6 separate regions of the Homo sapiens genome follow, and regions 1, 2, 3, 4 and 5 are each linked to region 6. The links come from fine-mapping of genetic effects on gene expression. A gene starts in region 6. Each other region holds a variant in brackets. All regions are shown on one strand. Distances are from middle to middle. Region 1 overlaps CSGALNACT1 (chondroitin sulfate N-acetylgalactosaminyltransferase 1). Region 2 overlaps CSGALNACT1 (chondroitin sulfate N-acetylgalactosaminyltransferase 1). Region 3 overlaps CSGALNACT1 (chondroitin sulfate N-acetylgalactosaminyltransferase 1). Region 4 overlaps CSGALNACT1 (chondroitin sulfate N-acetylgalactosaminyltransferase 1). Region 5 overlaps CSGALNACT1 (chondroitin sulfate N-acetylgalactosaminyltransferase 1). Region 6 holds the start of CSGALNACT1 (chondroitin sulfate N-acetylgalactosaminyltransferase 1).

Region 1 (4,097 bases), 240 kb before region 6:
GCACTAAGAGGTGCTTGAGCCAAATCCCAGCGAGAGGACAGGGGTCCCACTGGGGAGTCAACAATTAAATGCCAAGAGTTTGGAGTTGGCTGTGGAAGGATCTGAAGCCTTCTTCCCTGACCCCCTCCAGCCCTGACACCGAGCTACTTAGCACAGGTACTGGCTCGGGTTTCACACAGACAGCAATCTGTGTGGACAGCTGCCTTGGTGGCCCTAGCAGTTTTGCTGCTTTTCCTCCTCTTTCCTCAATACTCAAGACCAGCTGTCTCCAAACATTAATTAAACAAAAATAGCACATTTCAGGCATCATATGACTTTTGAACAGAGACTATATATATATATATATATATATATATATATATATACATGTATCTATTTAAAAATTATATACAGGCCAGGCACAGTGGCTCTCGCCTGTAATCCTAGTGCTTAGGGAGGCTGAGGTGGGCAGATCCCTTGAGGTTAGGAGTTTGAGACCAGACTGGCCAACATGGTGAAACCCCGTCTCTACCAAAAAAAAAAAAATACAGAAGAGAATTAGCCTGGCATGGTGGCTCATGCCTGTAGTCCCAGCTGCTTGGGAGGCTGAGGAAGGAAAATCACTTGAACCTGGGAGGTGGAGGTTGCAGTGAGCTGAGATCACTCCACTGTACTCCAGCCTGGGGGACAGAGTGAAACTCCGTCTCCAAAAGAAAATAAAAATAAAATATTAAATACAAGCTTTATAATGTAGTATTATGTATTTACAATATATCTAAAATAATAAAGCGTAAAATATTTTTAAATAATATTGTCTCACCCTGATGGACCATCCTGGAGCCCACAGATACCTAGCTCCAGGTTTCCAGTAGTTGATCTTCTGACTGCATTACAAGTGTCCTTGGGGCAGGGCTCTTGCCACAACTGATTCCAGGTCCCCAGTGCCAGGATCATGCCTTGATCCCCCATTCCTTCGGGAACCCAGCCTCAGAGTGCCTTTCCTGCCTCTGGACCCCACTGTCTCTATCTCAGGTCCCTAGCACCTGCTGTCAGGCCATGTCCTTTCCTGCCTCTGGACCCCACTATCTCTATCTCAGGTCCTCAGCACCTGCTGTCAGGCCATGTGACCAAACTGCCGGGACTCCACCCACAACCCACTTCCCTTCCTTCCTCACCCAAAAGACTTAGGCTCAGCCTTCAAGATGCTCCTTGAGTCTTCCCTGTGAGGTCCCCCTATCTGCAGACTCAGAGGGCGTGTTCTCCAGGGACCAGCACTGACCCAGCCCAGGGGAATGGGCTTGCAAATGACTTCACAGTCAGGAATTCCCTAGTTGGGAGGGATCCTCCATCCCCTCAACTCCTCGTTGGTCTTTTAAAAGAATTCTCAATAGAAAAGCAACTGAGAATAAACACATAAGTGTAAATCAAAAAAATAAATAACTAAGTAAAAGAATTCTGATTCAATTTCCCTGCCTTGAAGCAGAAAAAGGGAAATGTGGCAAAAAGAAGCTGGCACCTGCTAATCAGAAAATGAAAGCACACTGATCACAACCACAAGCACCAAAAGGTCAAGAAACAGACTCAAGTCCTATTTTTTTTTTATTTTGATTTTTAATTTGCTGGCAAACTTTTAGAGAGGAGGCTTGATGGAGAGGGGCTTCCTGTCTATGCCAGACCGTCTAGTCCCATTCCTTACAACTGCCACCCTTGCTTCAGGAAGACCTAAGGCAGGTAGTTGGCATGGGTGGTGGTCATGGACCCCAGAAGGTGCAATGAGGGCAGGACACTGGCATAAGAAGATGCTACTCAAGCCAGGTGTACAGAATAAAGACGCTTCTTCCAGCTGTAAGACATCTCAAGCACACATGTGGGGCTGAGTCAGCTGCCAAACCCCGCAAGGAGACCTGACTCCCGGAGTCTTTTGGGGCTCTTGGTGCCGGTTCTCACCCCAAACTGAGAACCGCATGAAACCAGCCTTCCAACACCCTCCCCTCGTTCATAATTACAAGCACTTAGTGAGCATTTACGTTGGGGCCAGACATCATACAAAGCACTTCACAAATATTATCTCATTTAATCCTCAAAACGATCCTATGAGCTACATCTTATTAACCCCATTAAAGAAACAGAAACTGAAGCTTAAAGCAATGAAGTAACTTGACCCAGATGTTCAGCTGGCAAGTAGCAGAGCCCAGCTTCAAACCCAGCTCCGTCTGATTCTTACCCACTACGCTATACTGTTCAACCCGCTTCATAATCTCAAACTGCTTGCTGAGACCTGCTCCTCATTCTACACCCAGCGTGTCCAATTTTTCTTGTTTCTGAACTCATAAATATTATTTATGAGCTTGCCTGGCCCCTCAAACGTGGCATGAATCACTGCTTCTCTAGTTAAAATGTTTTGTACCCCCATGTAGC[C/T]GTGATCTGCATTTACACATCTCTCAACAGCTAGGCAAACTCACACTATCCTGACAAATAATCCCCATCCCGGTGTGAGCCTTGCTCTGTCCCTGCAACTAGGGCCAGGCAGAATATCTTCGCAACATTCAAGTGTTTCTAAGTGATTCCACCAGACCCTCCAGCCGTGTGGCCTCCACAGACCAGGCTCTGGGTGGGCTGGGGGAATGTCACCCATTACTCCTTGGGCCTGGCCCTTAGGCTTCCATGATGGGAGCCCCCAGGAGGGGGTGAGATGCTGGAAGTGGCTGCTTTCTGGGGATCGAGGTGAACACAGCGGCCACGGCAGTCTCAGTGGTTCAAGTGCTGCCTTTGCTCCTGGAGTTTCCATTTCCAGCTGGAATCTGCAGCCACATTTATTTCCTGTTCTCCATTCCCTACTTTGGCCATGACCCACTGCCCACCTGGAGAGGTGGTTGGTTTTTAGTTGAGATGCCTCAAACCTGATATGTGGGTGTAAGACGCCAGGAGTTTATACTCACATATCAAGTTCGAAGCATCTCAACTAAAAAGCATCACGGCAAGTAGAATTTTTAAGCAACTAAGAAATGTTCTTTGAAAGAAGAAAAAGAGGGCCAGGCATGGTGACTCACATCTGTAATCCCAGCACTTTGGGAGGCCGAGGTGGGAAGATCACCTGAGTTTGGGAGTTCGAGATCAGCAGCCTGACCAACATGGAGAAAAACCATCTCTACTAAAAATACAAAATTAGCTGGGTGTGGTGGCACATGCCTGTAATCCCAGTTGCTCGGGAGGCTGAGGCAGGAGAATCGCTTGAATCTGGGAGGCAGAGGTTGCCGTGAGCCGAGATTGCACCACTGTACTCCAGCATAGTCAACAAGAGTGAAACTCCATCTCAAAAAAAAGAAAAGAAGAAAAAGAGAATATCTCTAGAAGGGTTAAAGTGATCACTGTGGAAGGCTCTCCTGCAAAACACTGTGTATTAGTCTGTTTTCATACTGCTGATAAAGACGTGCCCGAGAGTGGGTCATTTATAAAGAAAAAGAGGCTTAATGGACTCACAGTTCCACATGGCTGGGGAGGCCTCACAATCATGGCAGAAGGGGAACAGTTCGTCTTACAAGGCAGCACTCAAGAGAGAATGAGAGCCAAGCCAAAGGGGTTTCCCCTGACAAAAACATCAGATCTCCTGAGACTTATTCACTATCAGGAGAACATTATAGGGGAAACCACACCCATGATTCAATTATCTCCCACCAGGTCCCTCCCACAACATGTGGGAATTATAGGAGCTACAATTCAAGATGAGATTTGGGTGGAGACACAGCCAAACCATATCACACTCAGTTCTCTCTTCTTTCCTCTAGAGCACTGCAAAAGTAGATGCCCATGTAATGGCCATGTGTCAAACTAACATTCTTCTGTGCAGGCAGAAACCAGCCCTGGCACTGGGGAGACTCCAAGACTCAGGAAAGTAAGCACCTGGAGAGATCAGGGTCTGAGGTAGCATCACACAGCTTCTAGAGAAATGCATGCTGTTAATTAACAAAGAGGGGACTAATTTAAAAATGAGCAACACTCCCCAGCCAAGTACTTTCTGATACAGGAGTTAAGAAGCAATCACTTAGGCAAATAGTAAGGGTATGGGAGTCCTCAGTAAGGCTTTCTTTTAAATGAAAAGCAGCCCCAAATCATTTTCT
Region 2 (4,097 bases), 300 kb before region 6:
AGCAAAGGGTGTTGATATTTTAAAGGTGATGCATGGGAAGGATAATGCTTTAAATACATTAATCTGAAATAGCAATCATTGCAAACTGTGTGCCAAAAATAGTTGAAAATGGCAACAATTTTGCCACCAATAAATGACCAATGAGGGAGACATAATCTTCTGCTGTCAATTTCAACAGAGTGGAGACCAAGGAAAGAAATGGAAGTTTCTACATTAGCTTCCTGTGGCTCCTGGCCCCACTGACCGCCTCCAAAAGGGAAGCTCGTTGGCGAGAAAACAGAGGAGACACAGATTCAGGTGAGAGAAGGCAGCCTGGGGGACCTAGGGAAGACACAAGAGACCTTGGCTTCCACCTAGGACCTTGGCACCAGCAGCAGGAAGAGCCACAGCAGGCTATTTTGGTATTTCTACAAATTTTAATGAAAGTGGAGAGGGAAGGTAATTCCATCCTAATTACTTGTGAACTAACCCCTGGGGGAAAAAAAAAAAAAGCAGGGAAGGGGAGATTTGACATAAGCAAAGGAAAAAAGCTAATCACATTTAGTCAAGATCTTTTATCTGAAGAGTTAGAGGAGAAGGGATGAGACATGCTGAGAGCTGATGACATATATGCATCTCCCCCACATCCCACAGAAGCGATAGAAACAGAGCCAAAACTTTCCTTTTTCCTCTGACTGGTAGGCGTGGAAAGAGCTGCTGAAGATGAGCAAGTGAGCAAGTGAGCTGGAGACGTGAGTAAGTGGGACTGACTCTTTGTGATGTCCCAGGCCTCAACCCTTACTTGAAGGCCATTATGAGAGCCAAGTATGATACCTCTACCCCTTGGGAAAACAATTAATTCCCCCTACACCAAGCGAGCCGGGCAAAACTCACATATCCATCCCAGGGCTCAGAAGAGCCACAAGAAAAGGGAACTTCAACAAAGGCTGCACAAAGCCCCTGGGGGTTCTTCCTCTCCTCCACCCAGCTTTTACACTACAAATAAACTAAACAGAGAAATACCCTGTCCTCAAAATATGCACAACAATTCTCAGTCAAGATGAGGAGAGAGCCAAGGAGAATCCACCCAAACTATGTTCGAGCAAACAGAAGGCTGGGTAGTCCCCTGCACGTAATGAGAAAAGATAAAAAAGAAATCATAGCAACCACATCCCAAGAATCAGAATAAAATTAAAAGAAAAAGTTAAGAAATAGCATCTAAAGCAAGAGAAAAAATGGGTCTGAAAGAAAATGTAACTCAAACAGAAGAAAATTTCTTAGACATGTTTCACACTTTATTAACAAGAATATGAATTTAATTTTTAAAAAGTCCAAAGAGAAAACAATAAAACAACAGAATAACATTAGCAGGCACACTGTGTGCTCGGAAAATAAATCAACAGCCAAAATGCACAGAAGTAATGCATTAGAAATAGGAAGGTACAGAATAGATATGTCAGAAAATCAAATTACTGACACAATAAAGGTTTAAGTAAAAGCAGATAAAAGACTAAGGGTGTTAAAAAAACAGAGATGCTAATAAATGGAGAAGACCTGTAAAATATATAATTGTGTCCATGAAACAGAGAATCCAATAAATGAAGCAAACAGAACTCAAAAATAAAGCATCCAAAAATTTCCCTGAAAGAACCCACAAAGCAAAACAGGAAACTGTACTACAGGAAAATCAGTTAAAGAACAACAGACGTTGGCCAGGTGTGGTGGCTCACACTTATAATCCCAGCATTTTGGGAGGCTGAGGTGGGCAGATCCCCTGAGGTCAGGAGTTCAAGACCAGCCTGGCGAACATGGTGAAACCCAATCTCTACTAAAAGTACCAAAAGCAGCTGGGCGTCGTGTCATGCACCTGTAGTCCCAGCTACTCGGGAGGCTGAGGTACGAGAAGCACTTGAACCTGGGAGGCAGAGGTTGCAGTGAGCCAAGAATGTGCCACTGCACTCCAGCCTGGGTGACAGAGTGATACTCCTCCATGAGAAAGAAGGAAGGTAGGGAGGGAGGGAGGGAGGAAACAATAGAAGCTGAGATGAGACATATCCTGATTAAGTGAATGTGATTAAAGACTAATGAAGGAATTTTTCAGGCATTC[T/G]GGCAAAAGCCGTTTACGAGAGAGACAAAGTAAAGTGGTCTTACACTTCACCAGATCATTTAATGCCAGAATATCTACAAAGTCCTGAGGAATGACAGTGTGTCCCATGAATTTTAAGCCCAGCTAAGCTGACTGTCCACGATGACAACAAGTATATACTCCATTCTCAAACACTTGCGACGTTTCTTGAAAAAATTTCTTGACCATACAATATAGCCAACTAAGAACTCAGGAATGGAAAGCTATTGGAAGAGGACTGCTGATGAATACATTAAATCCACTTAAATCCAGAACTGCAGAAACTGTAGTTATAAAGTAGAATGTAAAGGTTGTAACCCTGTCAAGGTCACAGTAACAGATTGCAGCCAGGCACGTGGCTGACGCCTGTAATCCCAGCACTTTGGGAGGCCAAGGTGGTCAGATCACTTGACGTCAGGAGTTTGAGACCAGCCTGACCAACGTGGTGAAACCCAGTCTCTACTAAAAATACAAAAATTAGCCAGGTGTGGTGGTACATGCCTGTAATCCCAGCTACTCGGGAGGCTGAGGCAGGAGAATCGCTTGAACCTGGGAGATGGAGGCTGTGGTGAGCTAAGGTTCTGCCACTGCACTCCAGCCTGGGTGACAGTGAGACTCTGTCTCAAAATAAATAAATAAATGATTGCTAACAAAAATCAGAAGATGAGACACAGAAGGCAGAAAGTGTAGCTGTGCTGATTTCGTTTTGTACTGAAATGTTTCAATCAAACTTACAAAATGTAGTAAAAAAAAAAAATATTTCCAACCACTTTTTGTTTTGCAAAAATCACTTTTTAACTTCAGCGAGATCTCTTGGGAACTAATGTCTCTCACAGTGAAGACACATTTTCTTAAAGTTCAGCAAATCCTTTATTATACTTCCGGTTTTTTTCTATAAATTTAAGCAAGATACATTTTAATTCTATAAGTAGAAATAGAATGTATAGTATATCTCATGTTGCACTGACTTATTCCCAGCTGGCAAGCAATTCTTCTATCTGCAGATATGCAAAGAAAATTGCCCAAAGTGATGTTCAACTCATGTTAATAAGGGTTAATTCTAGGAGGTGAGACCTGGAGTGACTTTTTAAATAATTTATTCCTCGTGCTGTTCTACACTGCTTAAACATCTTATAATAGCCAAGTATTACCTTTTACAAACTAAAAAGTCATGTTTAAATTATAAAATCCAAAAATAATCTTTCACTGAATCTTTAAACAAAATATAAAACATATGGTAGCTATATAAATATTTAGAAAACAGAGGCAAAAAAGGAAATACAAATCGCTTCCAGTGTCATCCTCAGTGTCAACCACAGTTCACAGTCTCCAGTCTGGGGATGGAAAGGAATTTATAAAGACAACATCAAATATTTATTAAGCAGCCCTTTATATTTTCTCCCAGTAACTTTATGGTCATGTTAATTGCATTTAATTATTTAATTGGAGTTTACTTTGCTTTTTTGGTGTGAAATAAGAATCACATTTTTTTCTGCTATGTTTGGCTAGTTGTCCTGACACCATGCCCTGAATAACCCCTTCTTTGGGTTTGAAATGCCATCTTTAATAAGGTTTTATGAAGCATTAAATACCCACAGGTATTTACCCTCTCGCATCCCAGTTTTTCAGAGACATCAACAGTCTCAGAAATGCCTTGACTGTGACATAAACTCCCTACTCAGCCTCCTGCTCCAGTGTCAGCTGTCCTGGCCAGATTCTCTTTGTGTCCCATTGTCCCCTGTCTGTATCTCTGCCACAGCGCCTGGCTCTGCATTTGCAGCTTCTGCTATTAGTGAAAGTAGGCACCGCATCTTCAATTCATCTTCTGATCCCCTGCACCTTGGTAGCATGTCTAGCACATGCAAAAGGCTCTCAAAACATCCTCTCCAGGTCACAAGTCTTCCGCCACCCATCCCTTCCTACCTCCACGAGCAAGGGACATCCAAATAGTAAAAGTCCATATGGTGGGCTGAGATGAATCAGCTCAAGGCAA
Region 3 (4,082 bases), 52 kb before region 6:
GGAAAAGCTCTGGGTTTCAGGGTCTCCCCTAAAGGGAATCAGTGTAGCCCAGCCCCCCACCCAGTAGCCCCCACTTAGACCAGGGCCAATGACTAGATCCACTTCTTCCCCTACACCCCTCTTAGCCCCCTTCCTGGTGTGGGTTCACTTCCCTTTATATCTCATCTGATCAACATGATCACCGTGGACAGAATTCAAGCTCAAAAGGGAAACCTGTAACCCTATGGATGTCTGAGGCAGGGGAAGAAGGGAGGTCATTGGGAAGTGCTCACTAGTGTCCCTCCAATAGGATGCTACTGTCTTCTGATCTATTACCAAAATAACCCAAGACCCTGAAATCGAGAGCTTTTCCTTCTCAACTAGACCCATGGCAGCTCAGCCCTTGTTCAGAAGGAGCCATTGACGTGGCATGTGACTTGGGATTTGAGCCACTCGAAGTTGTTACATAATAAGAACAGGCTGACCTCTCTTGGTTTGTTGGTTGGTTGGTTTTGAGACGCCATCTCACTCTGTCACCCAGGCTAGAGTGCAGCGGCGGGATCTCAGCTCACTGCAAGCTCTGCCTTCCAGGTTCATGCCATTCTCCTGCCTCAGCCTCCTGAGTAGCTGGGACTACAGGCACCTGCCACCAAGCCCGGCTAATTTTCTGTATTTTTAGTACAGACAGGTTTTCACCATGTTAGCCAGGATGGTCTTGATCTCCTGACCTCATGATCCACCCGCCTGGGCCTCCCAAAGTGCTGGGATTACCGGTGGGTGTGAGCCACCATGCCCAGCCCTCTCTTTGTTTTTAGTGCTCCTCAGACCTTCAGGTAACTGGAGAGTTGGTTACTACTGACTGCACAGCACCTTCCACAGTAAAACAAAGTTTAATCAATACAAGAAATCCTCTCATGGTCTGCATGTCTCCCTGATTGATACAAAGTTATCAGATTCATTCACTCAGAACAACATATTCTACACCAAGTAATTTTTGTGATTAAGTTTAGTTCTCTACAAAGTACGTTACAATTAACAGTGTTTTTTAGGAAACTGCCCATGCACTGGCTTTCCTCCCTTATCCTACACGCAGCTCTCAGGAGCCTCTTACATAGTACGGGTGCATATCTGGCAGTGACATCTTTCCTGAGAGCTGTCAGACCCTTGAGGGTATCATCTATGTCTGATTTGCTCTTCCAGCCCCACTCAGTAAGCCTAACACACTACACTGCACATGGGAGATCTTACTTTTTAAAGTTTTGAATGAATGAAAGAATGAGAATGCTCTGAATTAACCAAGCTTGATGGTTAATTACATAATTACATGGATCATTCTTATTCTCTTCTCTCCCTCCTTTCCTCTCTTCCATTTCCCCCAGTCCCTGGAAAAACAAGGCACTAAACGAATGTGCTGCCAAAGGAGAAAGAAGAAAGGTAACAGGGCATTTGAATCACAGACCCTTCCAGGCCGATATTATATTGTTAGATGGAGAAGAAATTTTGAATTTTTCCAAAGTACCATTAATACTTTTTAAAAATAAATTTCTTGCATATCAAAACCACAGTCATCTATCACTTCACACCTTAAGATGGCTGTGATGAAAAAGTCAAAAATATCAAGTGTTGTCGAGGACTTGGAGAAAAGGGAATCCATATACATTGTTGATAGGAGTGTAAA[T/C]TGGTATAGCCATTATGGAAAACAGTATTGAGGTTCTTCAAAAATTAAAAATGGAACTACTCTATGATCCAGCACTCTCACTTCTGGGTATATACACAAGGAAATAAAATCACTTTTTCAAAGAGATACCTGCACTATTTTCACTGCAGCATTATTCACAATAAGATATGGAAACAATTTAAGTACCCATAGACGGATGGATGGATGGATGGGTGGATAAATGGATGGATGGATGGAGAAAATGTGATATATACATAAAACAGAATATTATTTACCTTAAAAAAGTAGAAAATCCTGCCATTTGTGATAACAAGGATGAACCTGGAGGACATTATGCTAAGTGAAACAACCTAGACATGGAAAGAAAAACATTGCTCAATCTCATTTCAATATGGAAGTTTTAAAAGTTGAACTCAAACAGACTAAAAGGGTAGTTACTGTGTGAAAACAGAGTTGGGAAATGGGGAGATTTTGCTTAAATGATGCAAACTTTCCATTACAAGATGAATAAGTTCTGGTAACCTACATCATAGTGACTGTAGTTAATACACGTATTGCCCACTTAAAATGTGCTAAGAGGGTAGATCTTAAGTATTTGCACCACAAAAAGGTACTATGTGAGGTGATAATTAGCTTGATTATGGTAATCATTTCACAACATATACCAAAGCATCACATTGTACACCTTAACTGTATGTAATTTTTGCCAATTATACTTCAATAAACTTGGGGGAAAAACAAATAGAAAGTAAATCAGTAATTCTACCTTAAGGATAGTAACTCAAGGGTAGCTATTTATGCAAAGACTTACATCAAGAATTCCATTAACTCAGGGAAAAACTGGAAACAATTTAAATGTTCAATAATTATTTTCTAATGCATTTTTATGCATCCATTCAATGACATGTTTTTGAATAATATTTAGAAGGAAAAAGCTCATCATTTGAATTTTAAAATCCAGGGAAGGCTGGGCACAGTGGCTCATACTTGTAATCCTAACACTTTGGGAGGCTGAGGCAGGAGGCAGGAGGCTTAAGCCCAGGAGCTCAAGACCAGCTTAGGCAATATGATGAAACACCATCTCTACAAAAAATACAAAAAATTAGCCGGGCATGGTGGTGCATGCCCATAGTCCCAACTACTCGGAAGCCTGAGGTGGGAGGATTGCCTGAGCCGGGGAGGGGGAGGCTGCAGTGAGCTGAGATCGCACTACTTCACTCCAGCCTAGGCAACAGAGCGAGACCCAGTCTCAAAAAAAAATCCAGAGAAAAAAATGTAAGGCTAGAGTTTCAAAAATTGTACATGACATATTATGAATAGATGTTTAATATATAAATACAACCATAAACATAAAAGTAAAGCAACATTCCAGAATGTTGATGCTAGTTAAAGCTGAATAATCGAATGACAGGGCACGACTAATTTTCATTTTCTTTCATTTCCTCGATTATCTTCAATTACCTTGTATTACTTGATTATCTGAATCCCCGAACCTCCCCTCCAACATGAAGACAAAGGCAAAAAAATCTGGAGGTGCAGTAGCTACAAATAAACCCAGACATGGAAAAATACTAATCAGATCAAATAAAAACTAAAATAGATTTCTCCACCTCCCAATCATACAGGGCCCTTACAAAGCAAATAGCATGCAAGGATGACAACGGGGGACAGCTGTGTGAGGCCTTATGTCTTTGTGAACTCACCAAGCCTTCCCCAATGTCATAGTTAATTCATTTAGATTAGGGAGAATTCTGCTTCATGCTCTAAAGGTATTTTACAAAAAGGCAGTCATTGTCCCTGTGGTTTGTGAACTGAAGCCAGGCTCAATCTGTATCTGTATTGTCATAAAGAGAATTTCCTCCACATCCTCAAAGGAAGTGTTACTTCCTAAAAGGAAAACTGCGGCGGAGGCTGGGGAAACCTAAGAGAGCAGTGGAGCCACGGCAGCCCATGAGGTCAAGGAATTGAATAACACAGGCACTAAAATCAGACACTGGAATACACTGAATCAGGTTTAAAGGAGTGCCTTTTCCTAGCCCCAAGTCCACAAAACACCCAGAAGGACATCTCTTTAGCCTCCAACCACAAGGGAAGAAGAGGAATCATTTTAATGGGGAACAAGTAAATAGCAATAATAAATGTTGGCAGTGGGATACCTACCAGAGCATCTGCAGGTCAGGCTCCTCCTTGTGTGTGAAGCCCAAACCCCAGACATCAGGTGTGGGCACTCCCGGCTCAAGCAATCCTCCTCACCAAGCCTCCCTAGTAGCTGGCACTACAGGCATGCACCACCATGCCTGGCTACATTTTTTTAAATCTTTTGTAGAGACAGGATCTTGCTATGTTGCCCAGGCTGGTTTTGAACTCATGTCCTCAAGTGATTCTCCCTGCCTGGCCTCCCAAAGTGCTGAGATTACAGGTGTGA
Region 4 (4,097 bases), 330 kb before region 6:
AATTCAGATGTGAAGTAGATGTCCACATCACAGAAAAAGAGAAGGACGTTGCTTCCCTTCCAGAAGCGGGCTCCAACATCAAGTCCCTTTCCCCGAGAAAATTCTCCATTCAGCTGGATGAAGGTAAAGTTCCTGAAGTTGGCAGCTCTGAAAGGCAAGACCAGGTACTGTCACTCACATTCCCACATGTTGGCAGCATCCCCTGAGAAAATATGTAATCAGGGCCCATCCACATCTTGACCCATTTCTTTTGTAACCTGAGGGCACTGGGACTCCCCAAGAAGTTACAGAACGGCCCAGACTCACAGGATACTCACTGGGATCGAAGGTACCAAGAACACCTAGTGGAGTTTTAACACTAATTTCTTCCTTGTTTCTCTGGCAGTTTCCCCGTATTGAAAACACTCTTGTCATCATTAATGACTATTCTTTGTGATGGAGAAAACTTGAACCAGGTAAGACTAGAAACACAACCCTGGAAAATCTTCGTGCATCCTGAGCCAACCGAATGAGGCCACTGAGCCAAGGAAATAAGATCACATTGCAATGGCCCCACTTAGCATCTTTTCATCTGCATTCACATCCAGGAGCCAGGCAAAATGTTCTTGATGTGAATCTTTCCTCCAAACAGATTTAAACCCAGATTCCTTCCGCATCCTCGGGTAAAGCAGCACAGCATGGCAGGAAAAATGACCAACTTGCAGTTAGAAGAGGACTGTTTCAGGCCTGGCTCTCCTACAGATAGCTCTGTGATCTAGGCCAGCCCATGAATCTTCCTGAACCTCAGTTGCCTCATCTGCTAAATAGGTGTAGTAACACCTTCCTTCACTATCCCACAGGGTTATTAGTGAGATAAACAGTGCCAAGAGTATACAGCACTCTGTAAGCATCAGCTATTGCTGTGATTAGCATGGGCAAGGATTCCCAGGCCCCAGGCAGTGAAGCCAGGATGTTTCTCGCATTCGTTGTTCTTTCCCAGGGACAGCAGAACCTTCTGAAATGGGGCCTGTCTTAAGCTAACGTTCCACGAATTCATTCCATGCCCAGTGGGACAGGTATTGTCTTCTACCAGATAATACTAGAGAACCACCTTCAGTCTTCTTTCAGCCTAGCAAATCCCTTTTCCTGTCAACGACACCCTTCTTTTCCTAATGGCTTCCTTTCCTCTCACACTCCCCGTCCTACCAGCTACCTGGCCTATCCCCATGCCCCAACTTCTCTCTACTGTTTCTTTCCAAAAGGTACAGAAACTCATTTCCAGTTTGTAAAGTTTGCATTCCAAGTACCCGTCTCGGGTAAAGGCCAACGCAAACATAGAGTCATAAACTTTTAAAATGCTAAGTTGTATTTGTATCTGGAATTGAATCAGTAAAACTAGTTCTGCGACTCCCTCCTTGACTCATCTTCTTCTTTTGGATCTGGGAGTGAGCTTGGATTCTTATCTTAGGGATCAGTGAGCCCATGTCAGAGTTTGATGCCAAACATGCCTTTCAGATTTGGATCAGGTTAGGAGGCCTCATGATGGGTAGAGCACTGGTCTAGGAGTCTGGAAACCTGGATCCAGGACTAGAACTGTGCCTGGGGCCCCATAAGTGTTCAACAGATGTTTCTGAATGAGTGTATGAATGTATGAATCATTCTAAACCTAGCTGTGCCTCTGATGGATTTGAGGCAAGTCACTCTACCCCTTTTGTCTCTGTTTCCAGGTACAAAATCCAGTGGTTACAGAGCTCAAATTCCCCTTTACACACTAAGACGCTATTTTTCTTTGGTTAAAAAAACTTACTTTACATATGTACATTATATATACTTGTATATAATACACTTTTTCTTTTAGAGACAGGGTCTTGCTCTGTCACCCAGGCTGGAGTGCAGTGGCATGATCATAGCTCACTACAGCCTCAAACTCCTGGGCTCAAGCAATCCTCTTCTCTCAGCCAAGTCCCAAGTAGCTGGGACTACAAGTGCATGCTACCATGCCCAGCTAATTCTTAAAAATTTTTTATAGAGACAGAGTCTCACTTTGTTGCCCAACTCTTGGCTTCATGCGGTACTACTGCCTCGGCCTCCCAAAGTGCTAGGATTACAGGCATGAGATACCACACCTGGACAAGACTCTATTTTTCCTATGATCCTGCATTCACTTCAGCACCACTCTACATTTGCAGGGATTCTCTTCCTCTTTCAGAACTTTATCTTGAGTCTTTTCTCTGGGGGGGTGCCCCCATTGCACATTTTCTGTGTGTTGCATTGAAGTTATGCTCAAAAC[C/A]TTTTCAGTATTAGGTATGGCACCAGTCAAGGACACGCTATCCTCCCGTCTCCAAAGACATTCAGATGGTGTGAGGTCACTGCGAGCACCTTCATGTCTCTTAGAGGTGTCTGCAGCCCCAGCTCCTGTAAGTCAGGTCAACCCATTTTTCCCTTCCCGGTTTGGTCAGTTTCCAGGAAAGGTTTACCCATGGGAGATGCCTGGATTTTTACCTGTTCATCTAAAGGCACCTGATCCTGGAGTCCATCTTGCTTTAACTTTCTATGTATTTAATATATACAGCCAGTAGCAATTCTCTTTCTTCGCTGTTTCCAGGTTCCTATCTTTTGGGACCTCTTCCTCCCCATTATACAGGGATATCTTCTAACTTTCAGAGCACAAACACAATGTATGAGCAAGTCCTTCCTCACTCAGGTTGCACCTGACTCATAATTCAGGTACCTTCTCCAGGAGGGTTTCTAGGATCTACTACAGGAGAGTTCAACTACAAAAATACCTGAACAACAGCAAGTGACTTTTGCCAAGGGAAGAAGAACATAGGCTCTTAATAGGCTGCATTAAATGAGCTGCGACATCAAGAATCTCCCCCTTGAACAGCCTACAGTCCATTTGTATAGATAGGCCAAATATTTACAAAAGTTAAATCATGTTGAGTAATTAAATAAGAATACAAGACAGTGTTAGAAACTGAGGAAACAGCATGAAAGAAATGACGAGTCTACAAGTGATTGATTAACTGCTGAGTGAACGGTAGAGACAGTGCTACAAATTTAGAGGGAAGAGTGGTAATTTGGTGGTGTGCATGCTTACCTAATGCACAAGTTAATCTAGTTTATTCTGTGCATGAATCCCCTAACCCTGGCTTGAGCTGTTGCTAATAAATGCTGTTCTCTCCTCTGCTGCAACAGAGGATTGGGTACAGGATGGGCTTCCTGTCATAGTCATGGGAAAAGGGGTGGGAAGAACTTAAGGTACCTAGTGTCTGACATGACCTTAATTTGGAAGAACTTTTTTTTTAAGCCTTAAAATGTAAATCCCTATGCTTCCATGATGTGTTGCTTCTAGAGAAAGAAAATTCAGGCAAATGGATGCTGGGGAACACTTTATATGGCCTAATGCAAAAGGCAATTTGCTTCCTTTCTCTTCATGCAACCTTTCTACAAGGAAAAGACAATGCATGTTATATCCATGGCACTACCCAATCTGAATATGCATTTTGAATTCACTTCATGTGTCCACAGGCTGCACAGAAAGCCCTGGGAAGTGGTACCCAGCTCTGTCCACGCACTGTTTCCATGTGGACCATATGGGGGCCGGCGCACACACACACAGCACCAGACACCTCGGCTTGCCTGTTCTCCCTGCCCCACGCAGGACTCTGCCCTGATCTAGCTTTGCCTGGGACTTTCATCCACCCTGATCAACACTGGCCAGAAGGCAACATTGCTGGCTTGGCAGTATGGGTCCATGTTAGAGCTGCTCTGAAGCCCTGACCACTCACCAGGTCCTGATGAGAGAGCTGAACATGAGTGTGCACAGAAGGCAGGGTGGGGACAGAGTCACTGCTGGCTTGGGAAGCACCATCAGGCAGTCACAGACACTGGAGAAGGCCCAGAGTGCTAACTCTGTCATCCATCTGTGTTTCCCAGGGTGGCTGCCAGGTCATTATGCTCAGCTAGGGGTCCGTCTGAGGATGAATAATGGTACAATTTTCCTTCCTGATTCCTCAACCCAAGGCTTTTTTCCAATAAACCAGTGATCTGAAAGAACCCCTCCAACTCCTCTCTTGCCATCAGGAAGAGCCTCTGATAATTACCAAGACCCTCTG
Region 5 (4,097 bases), 68 kb before region 6:
AAAACTTAGGTAATCAATGTCTCATCCTCTGACCCATCAGAAGTTTTGCTTTAGAAAAAGAGTATAGCTGCTCCAAAAGAGATGCCCCACTAAAATATATTATATATGTGCATATCACAACAATCTCAATGTACAATGCCGTACAGATGTGATGCAAATTACTAAAAAAAAATGAAATTAACTAAAATGGAAGTTCTTTTCACATAGAAGTTAATTAGCACAAAGTATAAACTGGATTATGTTACTCCGTCCATGTTGTATGCCTTGGTCCATTACCACACTAATATAATTCCTGAAATATCAACCATTTCTCACATGTCAGAGAAAATTTGGCTTTTAAAGACATGCAGTTCCAGAAATGAAACTCCATTCACCTATTATCAACTCTAGTCTTTGATCTTTACTCCTTATAAAGAAAAAGACTACATAAAGACAATACTATTATTACTATGTCCATTACAACTGTAGATCATGAAGCAAAAATTATTGCTGTTTTTCAATGGCTGACACTTCCAGGACAATTTCTTGTAGAAGTCAGTAAATGGAAAAGTGACTGAAGCAGATACTGTATAACCCTCAGAGGAAAAAGAATCAAGTTTCTGAGAACACATAAACAGCCACTGACTTACAGGATGACAAATAATCAGTTTCTTACATCCGTGTTGTGGTTTGCAAGGTACAATTTACCGTTTAGAATCTACTTTATAGGAGTCATCAATCTCACAGCCCTCCTCTCAAAACATCCCTCTGAAGTAGGTGTTCATTTCCCATTTTACACATGGCCAGTTGACACCCCCAGAGTGAACAACTCTCTGACTAGATCAGTATTTGGTCCCTGGAGACATCGGTGGGGCCTTCTTGAAGCCCTGTGTCTTCCCATGGGCTGCTTTCCTCAATGGGTAATTTAGGGAAATAGATGGAGTTGATTGGTAAGATCTTTGAGATCAGGGTGAGGAGAACAATTCATACCTATAGGGACGTCACCAGGGTTGCTGCAGCATCCATCCACATGGGAGATTGATTCTGTAAAAAAAAATCTCTTTGGTCTAATATAAAACAAAATGGTAGACAAGTGGCCACACCCTGAAGGGGAAGGCAAGGGGTCACGCAGGTGGTGGGCAATTGCTAAGTGACATTTTTCTAAAGGTGGAATTCCTTTGTTCTAAAGCAAATGTTTAACCAGTGCCCATTGTATATGTGCTGTGCCAGGAGCCCTGCACTTAAAATCCAGAAATTATGTCACATACATGATAGAAACAATGCCACCTTATACTTTGCATTGACTCCTTCCCTTCACCCTATTCTCTCATCTTTATTTTAAAAAAAGAAAAAGCTGATAAAATAGATAGGAATATGAAAGCTCTCTCAGCCCACTGTATCCTTCTCCCTCTTTCCTGTCTCAGCTAAGCACTCTGAGAGCATCGTCTACACCTGCTGCTTCCAGATCATCATCTCCCAGTTGTTCCCAGCAGCCCAGCAGTCTGACTTCCATCCCTACCATCCCAACAGAACTGCCCTCGCCAACCTCCTCCACATGCACCATGGTCCGAAGATAATGAACACTGCTCAGGACTCGCCTAACTGGGACAAAATTGATTCCTATCTGGACGTGCAGCCATGCATGTCCACGTAATTATGGATAACAGTGCAGTGTCACCTTAGCAACAAGTGATCAGTCTTTCATTTAGAAGCCACAGTTTGGCTAGGGTAAATGTTAATGAGAGGCTTCTAATGGAGTATGGCAGTTTTAAAACATACCAAAATCTTTGATTCTCCTCTTAATCCATCTCCTATTGCCCCGTCCTCTGCAATCTGGGCCAAGGAGTACAGCACAGCAGTAGCGATGCCATGTGCCTTCCAAGACGATGTCATAAAAGACTGTATTATAGTTCTCCACCTGGTTCTCCTGGAACAATCACTCTTATAACCCAGCTACCATGGTATGACAAGGTCCAGGCAGCCCATGGCGTGTTCTACATGAAGAGGGCCATTTGGAGAGGAACCAGGACCCCGGCCCTGGACCCCAACTGAGCTCTGGTCAACAGCCTTTTGAGCAGCCATCTTGAAAGAGGATTCTCCAGCCCCCTGAACGGTCCCAGCTGACACTGCATGGAACCCAAACCTTCCATGCCTAGCCATGCCCAAGTTGCCTATTTCCGAACTCAATAACTGTTGTTTTGAGCCACTGTTTTGAAGAGGTTTGCTACACAGCAATAAATAACTGATACACACGACTATAAAAGATTCTGGCTTCTGCTTAAAAATTCTATGAGAAAGATGCTGAGAATTTTCTATGTATTAAACTATTAAGATTTATAGGAGGCCATTGATTTAGACTGAGCTCCTGCTCTAGGCTTCAACAGATCCAACCAAAATAGAGTCACTCATGCTAAAGTTCCACATCACCAAACCAAAACTAAGCTATTTATCTGACCTGAGAAATCAAGAGAGAGAGATGCTAGTTAAATCCCCAAA[C/T]AGCAAGTTTTAGCATAAAGAAGTCCCCTGTGCTTGAACCCTTACAAGGAAAGTGACGTAGAGTAACCTGATATTAACAATCTGCTTTTTTGCGCTATGCTGTTTTCTTGTTCCTGCTCAAGCCACCTTTTAAAAACCAACCGCCAATGCCTGATCCAGAGTCCCTTTTCTGCATCTTTAGATGAAATGATGCCCAGTTCATGAATCACTAATCATTAAAGCCAATTTGAGTTTCAAACTAAATGTGTTGAATTTTAACAGGACTCAACAAATAAAACACTATATTGTAGAGACAACTGCAGGTATAAATTTACTACAATCTGGATAAAACTTTTTTGGAAAAGGTTCAAAGCAGTTATATTCTAATACATTTCCTAATATTGAGTGGACAATTAATACATGAATACTTTTCAAATCAATTGCTAAAGTAACAGAAGATATAATTTTACCTCTTTTCCTTCCAGAAGGCAACATTAACTGCATTTATAGCCAAGTAATGCTATTTTAAAATCTTCGTTATCCAGATTAATTCTCCATACTATTATAAATTCATCAGTATTTCTAATATCATCCTGCTCCCAGGACTTAGATATCTCTACTTTGGGCCTTAACATTCTGTTTCTGCTAAGAAAAAAAAATGACAAAAGCTACCACAAGTGTGATATATAGAACTATTAAATAGTCAAAGAGCTCATCTTTCTCCTAACTCAGAGTTTGACTACAGCTTACCAAAAATGACAAAATAGAAAACATATATAAAACAGATTTTTTTCCTCTATAACCAAAGCCCACTTGTAATAAACTACATGAGAGGTTCAAATTTGCTTGATCATAATAGAGCTGTTTAAAAATACATGGCTGGAATTCACATTTGCAGTTTGCAGATGGAGCAATAACGATACTCTGAATTAATAATATGTGATTGAAACTCCGCATGGAAGGAGGGGGTGTGTTATCCCACCCTTTCTATCCTGCAAGCCTAGGTCTTCCTAAGGACTACTTTGCTCAACGGGTAATTTGGGAAATTAGAGTTTGTTGTTCAGATGTCTGAGATCAGGGATAAGCAAAAGATTTCACGACTCTGTGAAGGTCACTGGCAATGACCACAGCAACCATTAATAAAGATTGCCTTATTAAAAATCTCCATGGCACTGGGCACTGTGGCTCATGTCTGTAATGCCAGCACTTAGGAAGGCCAAGAGAGGAAGATTGCTTGAATCCAGGAGTTCAAGGCTGCAGTGAGTGGCAATTGCACCACTGCACTCAAGCTTGGACAACAGAGTGAGACCTAGTCTCAAAGAAAAGAAGAAAAACACAAATAAAACTCTCTGCGGCTTATCATAAAATGAAATGTCAGCCAAGGCAAGAGGCCACGCCCGAAGGAGAAAACAGATAGGTCTGAGTGTGGGGGTAATGCTCCAGGCAGCAGGTGGTGAGCAAAGGGGTCAAGCTGGGTTCCTGGGAAGTTCCCCATAAATTTCAGCCAACGATGCACAGGCCTCCTCCCAAACACCGCTGAGCAGGGCTTCTAGATCTCACTGTTTTTGACAACACAGCCAACCTCAGCTACCAGGGTCATTTGGACCAAAAGGGAAAATACCACTAATCAAACAGGGCCCAAT
Region 6 (4,097 bases):
TGCAGACCTTACTGATATTTCTTTTTAATGTAATAACATGGCATTAAGAACAGAGCTAGAGCAACATGAAGATTGGTAAGTATCATTCATCATCATATGAACTTAGGATGGATTCTTAGGAAGATACAAGAAAAAGCTGAAGTATTGCCCCAAAGTTTCAACTCCTTATTTTCAACACCTATACTGGGCAGTATCTGAGATTCTCCAATAAATAATCAATAGATAAATGAATAGAAAGTAGGGTTACAAAGAAGAAGGAATTTTTACAATTTTTTTTAAATGTTGAAACATGCTGGAGTTGGGGATCCCTAAATGTAAAGAAAGACAAAAAAAAAAAAAAAAAAAAAAAAAGACAACATTTATGAAGTGCATACTGTGTGCTCGGGGCACTAGGATAAGTTCCCAAATGTAATTTCCTCCTGCTAAACATCTCTATAAGGTGAGGAATACTATTGGCATTTTACAAATTAGGACACCAAGGCTAGGAAAGGGGAAGTAACTTGCCCAAGGTCATGCAATTAATAAGTGGAAGAAGCCGCCTGGAGCTCAGGTCTCTGGAACAGCAAAGACACAAGCTCACTGCACTGTAATGTAAACGGATGAATCCAAATGTCGGAGATTCTGCTTTAAAACCCACTAATACATTTTACAAATAGACATATAAGATTTAGCACACAAAGATGAACAGGATTAAAGTATTTTGATATTGTATTATGTGGAGTACATATGGTGTGGCAGCTCAAGGCAGACGAATTATTAAATATGTACGGTGATCTTACAATGGGTATGGCCCGTCTCTTGCTTTCTAGGAATTGACCATCTTCCGGCAGCCCAACACCTAGTCCCCTGTGTATTATGCACTATTACAAAACGTGTTCAAGTCGCCTTTTATGCCTAAGGCTTACATAAAAATTCATCTTGCCTTTCTGCGTCTATTTCCAAGTTTGAAGGACCTTTCTCCCTCCAATTAGCAACATTTCAGCACTGCACAGGGCTTATTAATGCTCACTGTTGCAAGTAACACCAAGGTAATTTGACTTTCTTGTAGGAACAATGTCGACGAAATCCTACAGAATTAAATTTAAATTTCCAGTTTAAAAAAAAAAACCGTGAAAGAACACTTCATTACCTTTATTATCTAGACGTATCTAATGACGTTAAGTAAAAACTGCACCAAGGCTTTGAAACCAGAAGAAAAGTGGAGTTTGTGAAATTTAACCACTCCATGCTTTTTATTAGTATTTCACTTATGAGTATTTCCCGAGGCTCACTGTTTTGGCAGGCACAGTGCTGTTAACATCTCTTCCTTTCTCACCATTCTTTGCTCATCGATGAAAAGATAACTTCAAAATCTCTGACAGGAATGCAGGTGCAGGAAGTGCGACGGAAACAAACAACTTTGCCTCCGCTTCCTACAGCTTTCCTCTCCTCCCCGCCCTTCTAGCCCCCATCCCACCCCAAGATCATGCCCTCGAACAGCTTCTGCCCACCGATCGCACGTCCCCTGGGCATGTTCGGGCAGCGGTGACCCTCAGCCACATCCCCCACTAGCCCGGTCCCGGGCAGGCGAGCGCGCTGCCCACCGGCCACCCTCGTCACGCCCCCTCCACCCTCTCCATCCCAGCCACAATAATACAATAACCGCAGTCATCGCGCGGCACGTGGAAAGGCTACTTTTCAGTGGGTTTTGCAGAAAGCAATCAGACAGCGGAAGGCCACGAGAAACGCTGGTGAAGCCAAACCGACCCCGGGAGCGCAGCGGCCCCGGACCCTCCCTGGAAGCTCCCTCCGCGTCCCCGCGCGCCCACCTGGAGGCGCCGCGCCCTCCGCCTGCCAAGCCGGTCCCCGGCCCCTGCCCGTGCCCTGGGCCCCCGGCGGGCAGCGGCGGAGGGAGGCCAGGCGCGGCACCGTCCTCCGCAGCTGCACGAGCCACCCCGAGGTCGCGGGGTGGGCGGGCGCGAGCTAGGCGCGCGGGGCTGTGGGGATCTGCCGGCGCCACTGACGCCCCCGCGCGGCACACCGCGCCCGGCTGGCCCGGGAGGGGACCCGACTCACCCGAAGCGCCCTGCTAGCTGCCCGGCCCGGCTCCGGCCGCTGCCGCCGTCGCTGAACTTTCCCTCCTGCGCGGCCGCCGCGGACTCGGCTCCACCTCCCGCTCCGGCAGCCGCGGAGCCTCCAGGGACCCCGGGGGCGGGGAGCAGCGGCGGCGGCGGCGGCTCGGGCGGGCGGGCGCAACAGCGGCCAAGCCTGGCGCCCCGCCGCAGGGTAGGTCCGGCGGGGGCGGCCAAGGCCGGGCTGGGGTCGCGGTTGGCCGCGTACCTCCGCGTCACCCACGGCCTCTCTGCAGTGCGTCCCTGCGCCCGTCGGAGCGGCGCCCTGGCCGAAGCCTGTCACTCTCGGAAGGGGCCGCGCTCGGACACCAGGGGCGGTTTACGCGTGACTGGACACCAAGAGCCGGAGAAGTTTAGAGACTAGGACACTGTGGCGTGGCCCGAGTTGCAGGAGAGAGGTGTCCAATCTCCATGGGGTCCTTACTCTTGCAGGACAGAGTTCCCCATCCCCCTGCTCCACCCGCTCTGTTCCCTTGGCTGCCCTCCCCGCCGAGCGCCGACTTCCATGCAAAAACTTTGTAAATCGCACTTCGGGGAATTCACGCTTTAGTCGCGGTCTCTGCTGCCCTGGTCAGCTATAACGCCTCCCCTAGAGAGCTTTTACTTACAGCGAAGGTCAGGAACCCCTGTAACTCTCACACCGCACCACTGTGGGTAAGCGATGTCTGCAGGGACCCCTGACGGCCACTGGGAGGCCAGGAGAGAAGAGGGAGAGGAAAGGCTAAAAAGGCAAGTGGAGTGTTGGGTAATAAAAGATCCACCGCCACCTCCAGCACACACAGGCAGGCACCCTCCAGGGCCACAGGTCGCCTTTTATCTGTAAGTGCTCCAGCGCATCTCTGTGGGAGAGGGAGTTGGGAAATAGGATCGCCAATTTTCAGTGTAATTGAGGGGGACTCAGGAGGAGTCAGTTAGACTGGAAGAGGTCATCACCTGCAGATGCGGTTAAGCAACTTGCAGAGGCCCCAGGGCTGAGCCACCGCAGAACCGGAGCTGGAAACCAGTCCTATGACTCCTGAGGCAGTGCTCTTTCTACTACCTGGCCATGGCTCCTTCTACTGCCTGGCTCAGAGTCTCCATCTGGGAGATTCCGGCGCACCAGACTTTATTGTGGGCACAGGGTAGGCAGTCCTGAGGCTATAGGCACAGTCTTGAAGCAGCTCGGTTTCCATTAAGCTCCTGCTTACCTGCAGGAAGCATCCCTGAAGCAAGTTTTGCTTCCCACCTGGACTCCCCAGGTGGACCTATCCCCACCCCACACCCTGAGTGAACTCTTCACCCTCGTGACCTAATATACCCACTGCAATTCAATTGAGACTTGGGAAACAGGGAAGTGGGTGTTTTCCAAATGAATGAAAAATATGTCTATTCTGCTACTGCCCCAAAATGCTGCATAATGGAGGTAATAAATAGTTAACACAGCATACGTACACACATACATAGGTACAAGCCATTGGCCAAGGCTCCTTCCCACATTATCACACAGCACCCTCTTAAGGCAAATCATGATACTCCCCATTTTGCAGACGGAGGGCAGGACATGGAGGCTGGCGTTGGTTATGAGTTGTGTAAAGGTTAGAACCTTCACAGTCAAGCACTCTTTGGGTAACCAAGTAACCTCTTCAGAGCCTTCCCACTGCCACCGAAGCATTCCTACACCTCCCTATATTGGCAGGTGTGTTGTCAAAGCATTGATTTTCTTTCCTCTCCTGAAGCATCTCCCGTCCTTCTGCTCAGTGATATCTGCAGAATTAGAAAATACAGTTTCAGCATGGAATCTGGTCTGGAAGACAGCCCAGAGGACTTGAGCAGTAACTGCCAGGGCCCACCACAGACACACACGGTTGGACTCAGGTTCTAGACTATGTGGACAGGCTTGGGGAGGGTGGAGGAGGCGTCCTTGTTGCTGCAATTGGTTCTATAGCTGTTATCTAAAAGAAAGAGATAGAGGCCGGGCGCGGTGGCTCACGCCTGTAATCCCAGCAC

The links. PIP is the estimated chance that this variant, and not a neighbour inherited with it, causes the effect. A credible set is the group of variants that fine-mapping cannot tell apart.
Region 1: its variant is the best candidate, but not a certain one, in a credible set for the expression of CSGALNACT1 in esophagus mucosa (GTEx, PIP 0.72).
Region 2: its variant is the best candidate, but not a certain one, in a credible set for the expression of CSGALNACT1 in prefrontal cortex (BrainSeq, PIP 0.79).
Region 3: its variant is the best candidate, but not a certain one, in a credible set for the expression of CSGALNACT1 in whole blood (INTERVAL, PIP 0.62).
Region 4: its variant is the best candidate, but not a certain one, in a credible set for the expression of CSGALNACT1 in skeletal muscle (GTEx, PIP 0.65).
Region 5: its variant is the best candidate, but not a certain one, in a credible set for the expression of CSGALNACT1 in left ventricle (GTEx, PIP 0.85).

The regions. Positions count from the first base shown.
Region 1 is chr8:19,514,147-19,518,243 of GRCh38, forward strand. The region is part of intron 2 of CSGALNACT1 (chondroitin sulfate N-acetylgalactosaminyltransferase 1); the gene reads right to left. Among named protein-coding and RNA genes, the nearest start is that of CSGALNACT1-AS1, 160 kb to the right of the region's middle. The variant C/T (reference allele first, on the strand shown) is at 2,398.
Region 2 is chr8:19,451,941-19,456,037 of GRCh38, forward strand. The region is part of intron 4 of CSGALNACT1 (chondroitin sulfate N-acetylgalactosaminyltransferase 1); the gene reads right to left. Among named protein-coding and RNA genes, the nearest start is that of SH2D4A, 140 kb to the left of the region's middle. The variant T/G (reference allele first, on the strand shown) is at 2,087.
Region 3 is chr8:19,702,829-19,706,910 of GRCh38, forward strand. The region is part of intron 1 of CSGALNACT1 (chondroitin sulfate N-acetylgalactosaminyltransferase 1); the gene reads right to left. Among named protein-coding and RNA genes, the nearest start is that of CSGALNACT1-AS1, 26 kb to the left of the region's middle. The variant T/C (reference allele first, on the strand shown) is at 1,658.
Region 4 is chr8:19,420,372-19,424,468 of GRCh38, forward strand. It overlaps CSGALNACT1 (chondroitin sulfate N-acetylgalactosaminyltransferase 1), which reads right to left. Exons shown (of 9, transcript NM_001354483.2): 6 at 1-147. Among named protein-coding and RNA genes, the nearest start is that of SH2D4A, 110 kb to the left of the region's middle. The variant C/A (reference allele first, on the strand shown) is at 2,270.
Region 5 is chr8:19,687,321-19,691,417 of GRCh38, forward strand. The region is part of intron 1 of CSGALNACT1 (chondroitin sulfate N-acetylgalactosaminyltransferase 1); the gene reads right to left. It overlaps CSGALNACT1-AS1 (CSGALNACT1 antisense RNA 1), which reads left to right. Exons shown (of 2, transcript XR_007060841.1): 2 at 1,404-2,242. Among named protein-coding and RNA genes, the nearest start is that of CSGALNACT1-AS1, 11 kb to the left of the region's middle. The variant C/T (reference allele first, on the strand shown) is at 2,476.
Region 6 is chr8:19,755,131-19,759,227 of GRCh38, forward strand. It overlaps CSGALNACT1 (chondroitin sulfate N-acetylgalactosaminyltransferase 1), which reads right to left and starts at 2,147. Exons shown (of 9, transcript NM_001354483.2): 1 at 2,056-2,147.